Linked DNA regions of Homo sapiens: region 2 is linked to region 1. The links come from fine-mapping of genetic effects on gene expression. A gene starts in region 1. The other region holds a variant in brackets. All regions are shown on one strand. Distances are from middle to middle. Region 1 holds the start of RORB (RAR related orphan receptor B). Region 2 overlaps LOC101927329 (a long non-coding RNA gene).

Region 1 (8,126 bases):
ACCTCGGCTCACTTCTTTCTCACCTAGTGATGGGCCCAATTAAAGGTCCTCCCTTTCGCCTTCAGAAGTTATTCCTTTCAGTAATGAAATCTACGGAGAAGCCTCTCTAGAACTTCTGTGGTACCCTCTCACAGACAAAGGATGAAAGGCTTTGTGCGCCACCAAATACAACCTCCTCCGCCCCAGGCTAGAGTAAGCAACTGCGCTGTGTCCGGGACTCAGTTCAGCCGTGGGGCAGGACAAGGACGTCAAAGATCAGGGACTCTTAACCCCTTTCTTTCCCCGTAGCTTCCCTGGGGATAGTCTCTTAAATGCCCTAGGCGGGGGAGGAGTAGGGGGTGGGAATAGGTTTGCCGGATTGGCCCCGAGGGAGACCACTGAATCCCAGATCACCTTTCCGTCGCTCAAAGCGCCCTGATTCAGGACAGTTGTCAGCTGCAAACTGTGGAGCCCAGGCGCTAACTAGGACCACCTGGGAATGGAAAGCGCGCGCGTGTGGATGAGGGAAATGCAGTGGGCCCACCGTAAAGCCCAGGTCAAAAATGGCCCCTCTCCCAACATAGGGTGCTTAGTAGCCCTGCACGAGCGAAAGCTGATTCTTTTCCCGCTTTCACTTCTCAAGTTCACTCTCAAGTTCAACTCCCAACTCCACAAGACGTCAGAGTAGCCTGGATCTTTTCTCAATCCCATTCTTACGGAACAGCCTCTCATACTGTGGTAGGGCACTGTCCGGGGAAAATATGAAGAGGTAGTAAGGAAAGACACTAGGGGTCAGGAAAGGGCAACCAGGAATGGCGATAGAGTGACCTGGTCATCTTTTAAGCTTACATTTTCTCCAGCGCATTCCCCTAAGGCCGCCTGAGAGCTGCCTCAAGTTAGAAGTTGTAAGGGGTCCTAGGGCGCCTGGCGAGGCTGGCGCCCTCTTTGATAGGTCTGTGGGCTTAAACTGGTTTTCTCAAGGTGAGCATGAGGACCAGCGCCTGGCTTTCAATCCTTCCAGCTTCTGGAGTCCTCAAAGCGACCGCCGTGGCGAACCAGGACAGTCATCTGCAAACTGCTCCTTCAGGAGATGCTAGATCAAGCTACAACCCATCCCCACCCCGCGCCGCACTCCTTCTACGATGTAAGGAGTGAGCGGATTTTATGCCCTAGGTCCTAGTGCTGGGTCCGAGCTGAGGTGGCGCATAGTTTACGACGTTCAGAAAGTATGAACCCAGCCACAGGGGGAAAGTTAGAAGGGAAGAAGGGGAGGGACGAACTGGCAGCTCTGGACTGGGACGGGGGAAACCGAAAGAATGGATGGGATGGTGAGATGGGCTAGAAAAAGAAAAACAAAAGACCGGGCGTCTCTTACTAAGCCAAGGTTCTCTACTCTCCAATTGCCCAAGTATAGTTTCTTGAAAGAATTTAGACAGTGGAGCGTGTAACCAACCCCCAACCGGGACAATCAGCTGGAGCCAGCGCGCACACACACGGGTGCCCCACTCCCAGCGAGCCGGCCAATCAAGACCATCCCATCAGGACGTCCTTGTTTCTTATCTACAGTCAACCCCCTCCCCCATGGACAGTCTCTCTCCGTTCCTTCTTCTCCTTCCCTTTCCTGACACATCCCAGCGTCCAGCCAGCAAACCCTTGAGTCCAGGCTCGGGGCTCACCGGGTGCGGGAGGGAGTGGGAGTGAGACCCGCTGCCTCCTGGGGTGCTCCTCTAGGGGCGTAGGGGGACTGGGTGGGAGAGGATCACTTTCAGTGGAAGGAGGAGACCAGTGATTGCATCCCAACTCTCCCAAGTGCTCCCTGCCTAGACCACCTCTCTCCGGGTCTGGGATGCAAGAAGGTCTGGAGCTGGCCGTTACTAACTTTCTGTTGTCAAGACCCAGGGGTACGTGCGAAGGATAGAGAAGAGCCCCCGATTAACCGCTGTGTGGCCAGGAAGAGGGACTGGGAGTGGGGGTGGGTGCCCAGAGCTTGCACAGATCCCCATGTCAAGCGGACACCCGCCTGGCTCTTCAGTAAAAGAGTGAAGAAAGGCCGAGCACAGCGCGAAGGAAACCTGAGGTCTCCGGCAAGGCAGGAGAGGAGACCAAGTGACTCCCCGAAACCCACCCTCCAGCCCTTCGAGAGGCCCAGAGTCCAGCCGGAGCAAGCGTAACGCTACAGTCCCTGGCGCGCATCCCTGCAGACCCCAGCTCGCCCCGGGGTCCCGCCGCCGCCGCCGCCACCGCCTGCGACTGCGAGGGTCCTGGCCCGAGGGTGCACCAGCACCTCCTTCCACTACCGGCCCTTTATCTGACAAAAGAGCCGGAGCCCATGACTCTCCGACTGTGAGCAGTGTGGCCTTTCCAAGCCTCCAGAACTTTCTCATTACAACTTTTCCGGGGTCGCACTACTCCCTGGGCCGCGCGGGCTCGGGCACGAGGACCTGGCCAGGGCGCAGCGCCGGCACGAAGGCGCGCGCCGCAGAACTGTTTCCTCAGCCGCGTGCCGGGGAACTAACTGTTTCCTCAGCCGCGTCCAGCCTCGCAGCACTGCTCTTCTGCTTGCTACTCCAGCGAAGGGACATGCCTGCTGGCCAGGACGCTTAGTGGGCCTCGTAACCTGGCGAGTGTGTGCCCGCGCGTGTCCACCCTGCCCCCGGCCGGTGCGCCCCGCGCGCCCAAACCCGGCCGGCGACCACTGCGCGCCGGGCGCTTCCAAACTGCTCCTGTCCAGAGGCATCCCTCTTTCGGCTTTCTCCATCCCGCGTCCGCTTCCGCACCCGAGAGCGACAAGCAAAAAAGATTCAGTGCAACTCAAGGACTGGTAAGAACCAACTAGCCTGTCTCCCCTCTCCAAAAAAGCGCCCTCCCGCGTCCCTCCAGAACTCCCGAAAGACATCAACACCTTCCCGCAACTTTCTACGCCCAGGCCATTTGCAGCCCCACCTGCGAGAGCGAATTCGGGGAACTGCGCCTGGGCAACCTCTTTCCCTTTCTGCTGGGTGCCCTCCCCTCCCCCATCTCCCCGTCTGGCTGGAGTTGGCCGGACTCGGGGAGCCTCGGTGCCCGCAGACTCGCTTACCTCGCATGGTGTGGCCGCTCTCCCGCTCCGCGTAGTCATGAAGCTGCTCCCAGCCCGAACCCCGGAGAGCCCAAAAATCCCGCTCAGCACGAGTGAAGAAGGTGGTCGGCGAAGAGCTGCTCTGCCGAGAAAACCATCCCTTTAGGCGGACGCCGTGGCTGCAGGGTGACGTTTGCCGCCGCCGCCGCTATGTTAACAGTTTTGATGTTGGTGGTGACTGTTTTGATGATTGTTTGTTTGTTTGTTTGTTTTCAGGAAGGGTGAAAAAAAAATGTTCTGGCTGTCTGGTGCCTGGGTTTTGTTTTGGTTTTGTTTTTCTTTTTCTTTCTCTCCAATGTGCTTGCTTTTTAAAAAATGCCACCGCCTCCGGCTCAGAAGATTTCTTTTGTGATCACTTGGACTGAGGAGGAGGAGGAAGGGCAGCAGCAGGAGGAGGAGTTGGTGGTGGTTTTGTTAGTTACAAAGAAGAGGGAGAAGGAACAAGGGGGAAAAAAGGAAACAGAAAGAAAAGAAAGAAAGGCGGTGTGGATGGCAGAGCATGTGCGTTTTCACATGACATCTGTGCCTGTTAGCGGATCCACAATGTGAATTTTCACTGTTCAGTTACAGGGAGGAAGGGAGCAGCGAGAGAGAAAGAGAGGGGAGAGATGGAGAGAGAGCGCTGAGAGGGGCTTATACGCGAGGGCGGGCTTGGCCGCGACTTCCAGGCCCCGCCTGCTGTCAGCGCAGCCGCCAATCAGAGCCCAGCAGCGCCTGGAGAGGCTGGGACCGCGGGGAGGGGACGTGGTGGAGGCGGGGGGTGGGGCGGGGGCTGGGGACCAGGGAGTCCGAGGTGGCCGGGGCTGCGACGGGGAATTCGAGACTGTCCGAACTGGGCAGAGAAGAAGGGCCGACCGGGAGAGTCGGGCAGATCCGCAGGTGACAGGCACTTCCGACTCCAGCAGAGAAGGGGACACTGATCACGGAAAACCTTCGGAGGCAAGAGACGCGGGGCTCCCCGGGTTTCACGTTCGGTCCCTGTCTCGCAACCCCCGCGGGCCCGGCAGAGTTAGTTTTGAATTTATGGCAGCGCTTTGCCGAGCGCTATTTGGGTAAACTTCGGTCTCCGGCGGGGGTTTCCGTGGGCAGGTGGTTTGGGTGTTGGTGGTAGAATAATGCAAACCCACTTTCATCACTTTTAGCACAACTAAAATGCAGTCCCATGGAAGTAGCTGTCCCCTTCCTTTAAAAACGTCCGTCAGATGCTCCCTGACCCTCTTCTAAAAAAAAAAAAAAAAGAAAGAAAGAAAGAAAAAAACGTGTATATGTTCTTTTGTCTGGGAAATTGATTTTTATTAGCATTTGGAGACTCCCCTGGCGATGGACTACAGGACTGAAGGAGAACAGCTCAAATTGGCGGTGTAGCCACCTTACTAATTCAAGAGAAATGGCTGTTGCTAGAAGGTGTGATTGCAGGGTGCTCTTTAGAAAGGTTTTAGAAGGAAGACATTGTTAACTTTAGTTAGAGGCGATTGGTAACTGAACATAGATAAACTTACTTGTATTCCTTAGGTGAAAATTGTCATCTATGACCATTTATTTGTATTTTGATAAAAATCTAATACATATATCCAAACTGTTCCTTTGCAAGTTTTTCCAACTCAGTTGACAAAATAAGCATATAGATGATTACATCTACTTCCTTCCCAATAGTAGGGAACTTCTTAAATACTTGAGTTAATTGAACACCCTAAAAGATTGGGAGGTGAAAATATTTGCCTCATTCACTCAGTCTTGAGGCTGGGAGATGTCTACTCATTAGCATACCTGTTGGCACAGCAGGCCTCATCATCATTTAAGTATCCAAATAATTTGATTTTTGACTGGTATTTATTCATGATATGTCATGTAACACAAAGTACAATGTAGAATTGGCAGTTATTTAGTTAATTAGGTCGCTCTACACTGCCAAGTAGTTTTTTCCTTCCTGATTAAATGAAAAATGAATTATCTGCTGAATTTTCACCAGTATTAAATTGACGTAGCCCTGCTATATGCCATCCCATTTGCAAACCAATGTGTAATTTAGGAAAATTTTAGTATTAAGAGTGAAAGTTGATTGAGTCATTAATTAAATGAAATGAACAAAAGGAAGTTACTGTTTAGAATAGTTATTCCTTTATAAATATCTTTCTCCTAGATTTGTAATTGACACAGTAGTTAATCTTTTAAGATAATATTTAAGGCTCCCTGGTTTTATCATTTTTAATCAAGTAAAATATATTCATCATAACTATGTTAAAGCTGTACAAAGTTATGCCTAATTTAGTTGCTTCATTAAAAATTACTGAATATAAAATAGTCAAGAAACAAATTGTGACTATATCATTTTAATTTTGTTGCTTCAAGCAGAGACACAAGAATATTGAAAATTCCAAAGGCTTTGTAAACATTGTCTAATTATTATTGTTGTTGTTATCATTTTAGATTTCTATTTCTCTTTAGAGTGAACAGGAATTTCAAAATCCAAAAATTTAAACATTTATGTAATTTTAACTTTCTAAACATTTATTGAATTCTGAATTTTTTTTTAATGCTGCAATATCTGTAATCCTTGAAAAAGGTAGTCAACACGTGTATAAAAAGTATTTACCCCCCCATACATTTTTATATTCTCTTTATTTTGTGGTTTCAGCAAGGCATAATTTTGCTTAGAACATATTTCTTAATTCCTTCTGAGTATTTTTGGAGAAATTATTAATTAGAAGACTATATTATTTCATTTTTCAAAACTATGTATATAATCTCTATATATGGTGATACAAAAGTATGTATTTTCTCTTTAAATGCTAATCATTGGTTATAATGTGGCGGCCTGGGACATTTTGGATCTTTCTAAAAATTTAAAAACTGGTTTGTTGAATATTTCTAATAATTTTCACATTTATTTCACTGAATGGAGCCCATTTATTTAAAATAAATATTAAGAATTTGAATGAAAGAAGTCAGTATTTTCTAAGAACTCACAAAGCACATATATATAATCTGATGGTTTTGTAACCTATCTGCCAGCAAATAATCATATTTCAAGTGGCATAATAATAATACATTACTGTAATGTCCTAGCTCATATGAAGTACGGTATCAGTAATTTTATTTGAATGATTATGTCTGGTTTCCTATAAGCTTGAAACTCTGCTTTTCACTCTGGGCCTGAAGGATTTTCTAAGTTGACAGTTGCATGTTGATTAATTTAAATGACAATCAGTCACATAGCACTGTCCTCAATCTCAAGAATTGACATCAGATTCCACTTAGGCTTGCCTGCTTACCTGTTTTTCTGACACATTAGCACCCCTCAGGTTGAGCTGTACCACAGAATAGGAATGACAACAAATATCCTGAAAGAGGCAAAGTTTTAATATAAGCCAACCAGGTAGGGTGACCATGGCATTTAGGATTATTTCAATCCTAAAAGGCTTAAACAGGAAGTCATAGTTCATGTTATTCTGAGCTGATAAGTCAGAATATTCACTGGTCAGGGAATATTTTAAATAATTAAGACTCTTGAATGGACATTAGCAATACTGATAACAATGTTACTTTTAGGAATGACTGAAAGATTGGTTATGTTTAACTCTATTTAGGGAGCTGTGTGGCTGTGAAAATTGGGAAAGAGATATAAAGCTGCTATTAAATATTAGAAAAGCCAGAAAAATGTAAGAACTTTTAACATTCAAACCTTTTACAAGTGGGAAGGGAAGTACTGAGTTCCCTGTTGCTGAAGGCATCCAAAAAAGGGTTGAATGAAAGGTTCTGTTAGAGATGCTCTAGTATACAGATTTCTATACTAGGGTAGAAATTGTCTAGATTACCTCCAAGATCCTCTGTAGCTCTAAGTGTACAGTTGGCCTTTATGTCCATGGGTTCCACAACTGTGGATTCAACCAAGAGCAGAGCAAAAATAAATTGTGTCTGTACTGAACATGTACAGATATTTTTCTTGTCATTGTTCCCTAAACAATACAGTATAATAATTATTTATATAGTGTTGACATTGGCATTATAAGTAATCTAGAGATGATGCAAAGTATATAGGAAGATGTGCATAGGTTACATGCAAATACTACACACCATTTTATAGCAGAAACTTGAATATCTGTGGGTTTTGGTATCGGTGGGAGGTCCTGGAACCAATCCCCCGTGCATACCAAGGGATGCCTGCATTCACATGGACTAAAGGTTGCTACCACTGCCCCAGCAGGCATCAGAGCCACATTTCCTACCTGAGAATGCAAAATTCATGACAACAGGAGCCAGGATTTCCCTAGAGTTTGTAAGAGCTCCTGGTACTTTATGGGTGCTTGATCATTATTGGTGGAGTGAATGCTTTCTAACCTTTCAGCCACTGAATATGAATCACAAATGGAGTGAAGACCTGAATAAGATCCTTCTTTCTCAGTTTCTATTGAATGGGAAGAGGAGAGTGGGGAGAATCTGCATTTTAAACTCTCCTAATTTGGGGAAGCAAAAAATAATGGTTGAGATTGGTTATATAGTCATAAAAGGAAGCTAAAATTTAGTTATTTTCATATTTATTACTATTCTTAATTAATTTATTTATTCTTTGAAAGGAAGTCTCGCTGGAGGCTGGAGTGCAGTGGCACAGTCTCAGCTCACTGCAGCCTCTACCTCTTGGGTTCAAGTGATTCTCCTGCCTCAGCCTCCTGAGTAGCTGGGATTACAGGTGACCACCACCATGCTTGGCTAATTTTTGTATTTTAGTAGAGACGGGGTTTCACCATGTTGGCCACACTGTTCTCAAACTCCTGACCTCAAGTGATCTGCCTGCCTCAGCCTCCGAAAGTGCTGAGATGACAGACGTGAGCCACCACACCCAGCCCTATTCTCAATTTTATTCCCAGGTACTGAGTCTTCTTCATAATCTTTGAGTTCTTTAAGTTCTGCTTCATTTTAAAGTGTAGATGCAAGTTCAATAAGTTTTCAAAATAAAAAAAAGAAAGCAAATATTAAAATAGAGCATGTAATTTTGAAATAAATTGGAAAAGGTGATAAGGGCCAAAGCATG
Region 2 (8,126 bases), 270 kb after region 1:
TAAAATTGGCTATATTTAGAGGTTATTTAAAGTTGTGTAAAATGTGCAAGAGGTTTTGATGTAATTCTGAAATCTGTTTTTAAAAATTTTCAACCACCATCAGAACTGCAGCTTCCAGTTTAGAACAATGTTTCTCTCCAGTATAATTTGATTCTGTACTCTTGGCTTTTATTGATGTGTCTGAATTGCGCCAGGTAACTAGCAAGGCAATTTCCCATGTTTTTACTAATAGCCATGTACTTTCCTGCTCAAGATACTGGCTTTCTTGTTTATGTTTTTCTATGATATGGTGTACAATCAAAATCCTGGACACATACTCTTCTTGTTTCTGATCAAATTCAAGTACTTTTCCATCAGGTTTGACTTCAAAACCTCTTGCACATTTTACACAACTTTAAATAACTTGTAAATTTAGCCAATTTAAAAAATAAATAACATATATTTGCTTTTATATTTTTTACCAAAGACACACCTAATTTTTGTTATGCTTTCTATATAAACCTGAAGTCAAAACAGGCTTCCCACAAAGGGACACAATCATACTCTGAGAGACGATGTTTTGTCTTTGTGTTTTGTGTGGGTAGGTGGGTTTTTGTGTGTTTTCCTTTTGGTAACTGGTGTAAGAAACAAAGATTTTATATTTTATCAAGATAATTTTCTATGTTTCATGTTGACTTAATTAGATTTTTAGATTACTTAGGAAAACTGAGCTTTGAAAGGGTTAGAATTTTTTTAAATCTATATAACTTTCTGTATTGCTTTTAAAATCTTTTTATGTTACTCTGGTGAAAATATGGCTATCATTTCACAGTGATTTGTGATTTTGTTTAGATCAGTTGTTTTAAATATTTTGCCATCTTCAACTGGCTTCCCAGCATTAAAAGTTTAAATTAAGTCATTTTGAGATAGAGTTAACTTTGAGGTTTTCAGTTGGTACCCTGGAGAGCCCCACGGGATGTGTCTCTCATCTTGTAGAGATAGTAAACAATTAGGATTATTTGGTAAATTGTAAAAAAAAGCATTGTCAAGTGATAAGTGATGCTAGATCTTTTTGTAACATTTATGACTATGTTATTGATAATAAATGCTCAAAAATTGTATAAAATTCTTTGAAATTTTATATGACATCAGTCATAATTATACTTCTTATGTAGTACATCACAAATAACCAAATTTTCATGTCAACTGCTGATTATAATAAATTTCCACCAAATTTTTAACAAATTATTTATTTATTTAATTTCAGTAGATTTTTGGGGAAACAGGTGGTGTTTGGTTACATGGATAAGTTCTTTAGGTGTGATTTCTGAGATTTTGGTGCACCCATCACCCAAGCAGTGTACACTGTACCCAATGTGTAGTCTTTTATCCCTTGCCACCTCGCACTCCCCCAAGTCCTCAAAGTCCATTTTATCATTCTATTCCTTTGTGTTCTCATAGCTTAGCTCCTATTTATAAGTGAAAACATACAATGTTTGGGTTTCCATTCCTGAGTTACTTCACTTAGAATAATGATCTCCAGTTCCATCCAGATTGCTGCAAATGCCATTATTTCACTCCTTTTTATGGCTGAGTAGTATTCCATTATGTATATCTATATAACTATATCTATATAATAGATTTGCTTTTGGGTTCTTGGTCATGAAGTCTTTGCCTAAGACAATGTCTAGAAGGGTTTTTCCAATGTTATATTCTATAATTTTTATGATTTCAGATCTTAGATTTAAGTCTTTGATCCATCTTGAGTAGATTTTTGTGTAAGGTGAGAGATGAGGATATGGTTTCATTTTTCTACATGTGGCTTGCCAATTATCCCAGCACCATTTGTTGAATAGGGTGTCCTTCCCCATTTTATGTTTTTGTTTGCTTTGTTGAAGATCAGTTGACTGTAAGTGTTTAACTTTATTTCTGTGTTCTCTATTCTGTTCCATTGGACTTTGTGTCTATTTTTATGCCAATACCATGCTGTTTTGGCAACTACAGCCTTGTAGTATAGTTTGAAGTTGGGTAATGTGATGCCTCCAGATTTGTTTTTTCTGCCTCATCTTGGTTTGGCTATATGGGCTCTTTTCTGATTCCACATAATTTTTGAATTGGTTTTTCTAGTTCTGTGAAGAATGATGATGGTATTTTGATGGAAATTGCATTGAATTTGTAGATTACTTTTGGCAGTGTGGTCATTTTCACAATATTGATTCTACCCATCCATGAGCATGGGATGTGTTTCCATTTGTTTGTGTCTTCTATGATTTCTTTCAGCATGTTTTGTAGTTTTCCTTGTAGAGGTCTTTCACTTCCTTGGTTAAGTGTGTACCTAAGTATTTTATTTTATTTTTTATAGCTATTGTAAAAGGGCTTGAGTTCTTGATTCGAGTCTCAGCTTGGTTGCTGTTGGTGTATATAGCAGTGCTACTGATTTTTTACATTTATTTTGTAACTTTACTGAATTTTTAAATCAGTTCTAGGAGCTTTTTGGATTAGTCTTTAGGGTTTTCTTTTCTTTTCTTTTTGAGATGAAGTCTTGCTCTTGTCACCCAGGCTGGAGTGCAATGGCCTGATCTCAGCTTATTGCAACCTGTGCCTCCCAGGTTCAAGTGATTCTCCTGCCTCAGCCTCCTGAGTAGCTGGGATTACAGGCGTCTGCCACCACACCTGGCTAATTTTTGTATTTTTAGTAGATATGGGGTTTCACCATGTTGGTCAGGCTGGTCTTAAACTCCTGACTTCAGGCAATCCACCCACCTTGGCCTCCCAAAGTGCTGGGATTACAGGCTTAAGCCACCATGCCCGGCCATCTTTAGGGTTTTCTAAGTGTACAATTATATCATTGGTGAACAACAACAGTTTGATTACTTGTTTGCTTGTTTGGATCCCCCTTATTTCTTTCTCTTGTCTGATTGCTCTGCTTAGGACTTCTGGTACTATGTAGAATAGAAGTGGTGAAAATAGGCATCCTTGTCTTGTTCCAGTTCTCAGGGGGAAAACGTTCAACTTTTCCCTATTCAGTATAATGTTGGCTGTGGGTTTGTCATAGATGGCTTTTATTACCTTAAGGTACATCCCTTCTATGCCAATTTTGCGAGGGCTTTAATACTAGAACAATGCTGGATTTTGTCACATGCTTTTTCTTCATCTATTGAGATGATCATGTGATTTTTGTTTTTATTTCTGTTTATGTGGTGTATCACATTTATTGACTTGGTATGTTAAACCATTCCAGCAACCCTAGTATGAAACCTACTTGATCATGGTGAATTATCTTTTTGATATGCTGTTGGATTCAGTTAGCTTGTATTTTGTTGAAGATTTTTGCATCTATGTTCATTAGGAATATTGGTCTGTAGTTTTTGTTTTGTTTTGTTATGTCCTTTCCTAGTTTTGGAATTAGAGTGATACTAGTTTCACAGAATGATTTAGGGAGGATTCCTTTTTTCTGTATCTTGTGGAATAGTGTCAACAGGATTGGAGCCAATACTTTTTTGAATGTCTGATAGAATTCAACTATGAATCCATCTGTTCCTGGACTTTTATTTGTTGGCAATTTTTAAAATTACCATTTCAATCTTGCTGCTTGTTATGGGACTGTTCAGAGTTTCTACTTCTTCCTGGTTTAATCTTGGAGGGTTGTATATTTCCAAAAATTTATCCATCTCCTCTAGGTTTTCCAGTTTTTGAGAATAAAGGTGTTCATAGTAGCCTTGAATGATCTTTTGTATTTCTGTGGTATCAGTTGTAATATCTCCCTTTTTGTTTCTAATTGAGCT[T/C]ATTTGGATCTTCTCTTTTCTGTTCTTGGTTAATCTCGCTACTGGTCTGTCAGTTTTGTTTATCTTTTCAAAGAATCGGTTTTTTGTTTCATTTATTTTTTGTATTGCTTTTTTTGTTTGTTTCAATTTAATTTAGTTCTTCTCTGATCTTTGTTATTTTTTTTCTTCTGTTGGGTTTGGTTTGATTTGTTCTTGTTTCTCTAGTTCCTTGATGTGTGAACTTAGATTGTCTATCTGAGCTCCTTCAGACTTTTTGTTGTAGGCATTTAATGCTATAAACTTCCCTCTTAGCACCGCTTTTGCTGTATCTCAGAGGTTTCGATAGGTTATGTCACTATTATCTTTCAGTTCAAAGAATTTTTAAATTTCCATCTTGATTTCATTGTTGAACCAATGATCATTCAATAGCAGGTTATTTAATTTCCATGTATTAGCAGGGTTTTCAGGGTTCCTTTTGGAGTTGAATTCTAATTTTATTCCACTGTGGTCTGAGAGAGTACTTGATAGAATTTTAATTTTCTTAAATTTATTGAGACTTGTTTTGTGGCCTATCATGTGGCCTATGTTAGAAAATATTCCACGTGCTGATGAATAGAATGTGTATTCTGCAGTTGTTGGGTAAAATGCTTTGTAAATATCTGTTAACTTCATTTGTTCTAGGGTATAGTTTAAGTCCATTGTTTCTTTGTTGGCTTTCTGTCTTGATGACCTCTCTAGTGCTGTCAGTGGAGTACTGAAGTCACCCACTATTACTGTTTTGCTGTCTTTATAATTTCTTTTTTTTTTTTTTTGAGACAGAGTCTTGCTTTGTTGCCCAGGCTGGAGTGTGGTGGCACGATCTTGGCTCACTGCAACCTCTGCCTCCTGGGTTCTAGTGATTCTTTTGCCTCAGCCTCCCGAGTAGCTGGGACTACAGGCATGCACCACCATGTGTATTTTTAGTAAACATGAGGTATCACCACATTGGCCAGGCTGGCCTTGAACTCCTGACCTCGTGATCCACCCACCTCAGCCTCCCAAAGTGCTGGGATTACAGGTGTGAGCCACCATACCTGGCCTATCTCATTTTTTAGGTCGAGTAGTGATTGTTTTATAAGTTTGGTAACTCCAGTATTAAGTGTGTATATATTTAGGATTGTGATGTTTTCCTGTTGGACTAGAACTTCAATCATTATTTGATGTCCCTCTTTGTCTTTTTTAACCATTGTTGCTTTAACATCTGTTTTGTCTGGTATAAGTGTAGCTACTTCCTCTAACTTTGGGAATAATTTTTCCACCTCTTTACCTTAAGTTTATGTGAATCCTTACCTGCTAGGTGAGTCTCTTGAAGACAGCAGATGGTTGGTGAATTCTTATCCATTCTGACTTTCTGTATCTTTTAAGTGGAGCATTTAGGTCATTTATATTCACTGTTAGTACTGAGATGTGATGTACTATTCAATTCATCATACTAGTTGTTGCCTGAATACCTTTTTTTTTCTCATTGTGTTATTGTTTTATAGGTCCTGTGAGATTTATACTCAAGAAGGTTCTATTTTGGTGTATTTCAAGGTTTTGTTTCAAGACTTAGAGTGCCTTTTAGCAGCTCTTGTAAAGCTGGCTTGGTAGTGGCGAATTCTCTCAGCATTTGTTCATCTGAAAAAGCATTTGTTCATATGAATTCTCTCAGCATTTGTTTCTTTCATTTATGAAGCTTAGTTTCCCTGGATGTAAAATTCATGGCTGACAATTGTTTTGTTTAAGGAGGCTAAAAATAGGACCCCAATCCCTTCTAGCTTGTAGGGTTTCTGCTAAGAAATGTTCTGTTAATTTGATAGGTTTTCCTTTATAGGTCACCTCATGCTTTTGCCTCACAGCTCCTAAGATTCTTTCCTTCATCTTAACTTTAGATAACCTGATGACTACGTGCCTAGGCGATGATCTTTTTGCACTGAATTTTCTGGTGTTCTTTCAGCTTCTTGTATTTGGATGTCTAGATCTCTAGCAAGGCCAGAAAAGTTTTCCTTGATTATTTCCTCAAATGTTTTCCAAACTTTTGGTTTTCTCTTATTCCTTGGGAACACCAATTATTTTTAGGTTTGGTTGTTTAACATAATTTCAAACTTCTTGGAGGTTTTGTTCTTTTTTTTTTTGCCTTTTTTATTATTATACTTTAAGTTCTAGGGTACATGTGCACAATGTGCAGGTTTGTTACATAGGTATACATGTGCCATGTTGGTTTGCTGCACCCATCAATTCGTCATTTCATTAGGTATTTCTCTTAATGCTACCCCTCCCCTAGCCCCCCACCCCCCAACAGACCCCAGTGTGTGATGTTCCCCTCCCTGTGTCCATGTGTTCTCATTGTTCAGTTCCCTCTTATGAGTGAGAACATGCGGTGTTTGGTTTTCTGTCCTTGTGATCTTTTGCTGAGAATGATGGTTTCCAGCTTCATCCATGTCCCTGCAAAGGACATGAGCTCATTCTTTTTCATGGCTGCACGGTATTCCATGGTGTACGTGTACCACATTTTCTTTATCCAGTCTATTATTAATGGACATGTGGGTTGGTTCCAAGTCTTTGCTATTGTGAATGGTGCCACAGTAAACATACGTGTGCATGTGTCTTTATAGTAGCATGATTTATAATCCTTTGGGTATATACCCAGTAATGGGATTGCTGGGTCAAATGGTATTTCTGGTTCTAGATCCTTGAGGAATTGCCACACTGTCTTCTACAATGGTTGAACTAGTTTACACTCCACCAACACTGTAAAAGTGTTCCTATCCATGCTCATGGATAGGAAGAATCCATATCATAAAAATGGCCATACTGCCCTAAGTAATTTATAGATTTAATGCTATCTCCATCAAGCTACCACTGACTTTTTTCACAGAATTGGAAAAAAACCCTTTAAATTTCATATGGAACAAAAAAAGAGCCCGCATAGCCACATCCTCTCCAGCATCTGTTGTTTCTTGACTTTTTAATTATCACCAATCTAACTAACTGGGGTGAGATGGTATCTCATTGTGGTTTTGATTTGCATTTCTCTGATGACCAATGATGACAGGCATTTTTTCTTATATCTGTTGGTTGCATAAATGTCTTCTTTTGAGAAGTGTCTGTTCATATCCTTTGCCCACTTTTTGATGGGGTTGTTTGTTTTTTTCTTGTAAATTTGTTTAAGTTCTTTGTAGATTCTGGATATTAGCCCTTTGACAGATGGATGATTGCAAAAATTTTCTGCCATTCTGTAGGTTTCCTGTTCACTCTGATGATAGTTTCTTTTGCTGTGCAGAAGCTCTTTAGTTTAATTAGATGGCATTTGTCTATTTTGGCTTCTGTTACTGTTGCTTTTGGCATTTTAATCATGAAGTATTTGTCCATGCCTATGTCCTGAATGGTATTGCCTAGGTTTTCTTCTAGGGTTTTTATAGTTTTAGGTCTTATATTTAAGTCTTTAATCCATCTTGAGTTAATTTTTGTATAAGGTGTAAGAAAGGGATTCAGTTTCAGCTTTCTACGTATGGCTAGCCAGTTTTCCCAGCACCATTTATTAAATAGGGGATCCTTTCCCCATTGCTTCTTTTTGTCAGCTTTATCAAAGGTCAGATGGTTGTTGATGTGTGGTGTTATTTCTGAGGCCTCTGTTCTCTTCCATTGGTCTATATCTCTGTTTTGGTACCAGTACCATGCTGTTTTGGTTACTGTAGTCTTGTAGTATAGTTTGAAGTCAGGTAGCATTATGCCTCCAGCTTTGTTCTTTTTGCTTAGGATTGTCTTGGCTATGTGGGCTCTTTTTTTGTTCCATATGAAATTTAAAGGGTTTTTTTCCAATTCTGTGAAAAAAGTCAGTGGTAGCTTGATGGAGATAGCATTAAATCTATAAATTACTTAGGGCAGTATGGCCATTTTTATGATATTGATTCTTCCTATCCATGAGCATGGAATATTCTTCCATTTGTTTCTGTCCTCTCTAATTTTCTTGAGCAGTGGTTTGTAGCTCTCCTTGAAGAGGTCCTTCCTATCCCTTGTAAGTTGGATTTCTAGGAATTTATTCTCTTTGTAGTAATTGTGAATGGGAGTTCACTCATGATTTGGCTTTCTGTCTGTTCTTGGTTTATAGGAATGCTTGTGATTTTTGCACATTGATTTTGTATCCTGAGACTTTGCTGAAGTTGCTTATCAGCTTGAGGAGATTTTAAGCTGAGACAATGAGGTTTCTAAATATGCAATCATGTCATCTGCAAACAGAGACAATTTGACTTCCTCTTTTCCTAATTGAATACCCTTTATTTCTTTCTCTTGCCTGATTGCCCTGGCCAGAACTTCCAATACTGTGTTGAATAGGAGTCGTGAAAGAGGGCATCCTTGTTTTGT

The links.
Region 2: its variant is fine-mapped to the expression of RORB in blood mononuclear cells (TOPMed, PIP above 0.99).

What each region holds. Positions count from the first base shown.
Region 1 is chr9:74,492,916-74,501,041 of GRCh38, reverse strand. RORB (RAR related orphan receptor B) reads right to left here and starts at 3,707. Exons shown (of 10, transcript NM_006914.4): 1 at 3,059-3,707. The coding sequence starts at 3,065. RORB-AS1 (RORB antisense RNA 1) reads left to right here and starts at 2,489. Exons shown (of 5, transcript NR_125791.1): 1 at 2,489-2,800. RefSeq lists enhancers at 470-970, 1,029-1,805 and silencers at 3,475-3,769, 3,674-3,863, 3,859-4,071.
Region 2 is chr9:74,223,230-74,231,355 of GRCh38, reverse strand. The region is part of intron 2 of LOC101927329 (a long non-coding RNA gene); the gene reads left to right. Among named protein-coding and RNA genes, the nearest start is that of RORB, 270 kb to the left of the region's middle. The variant T/C (reference allele first, on the strand shown) is at 3,765.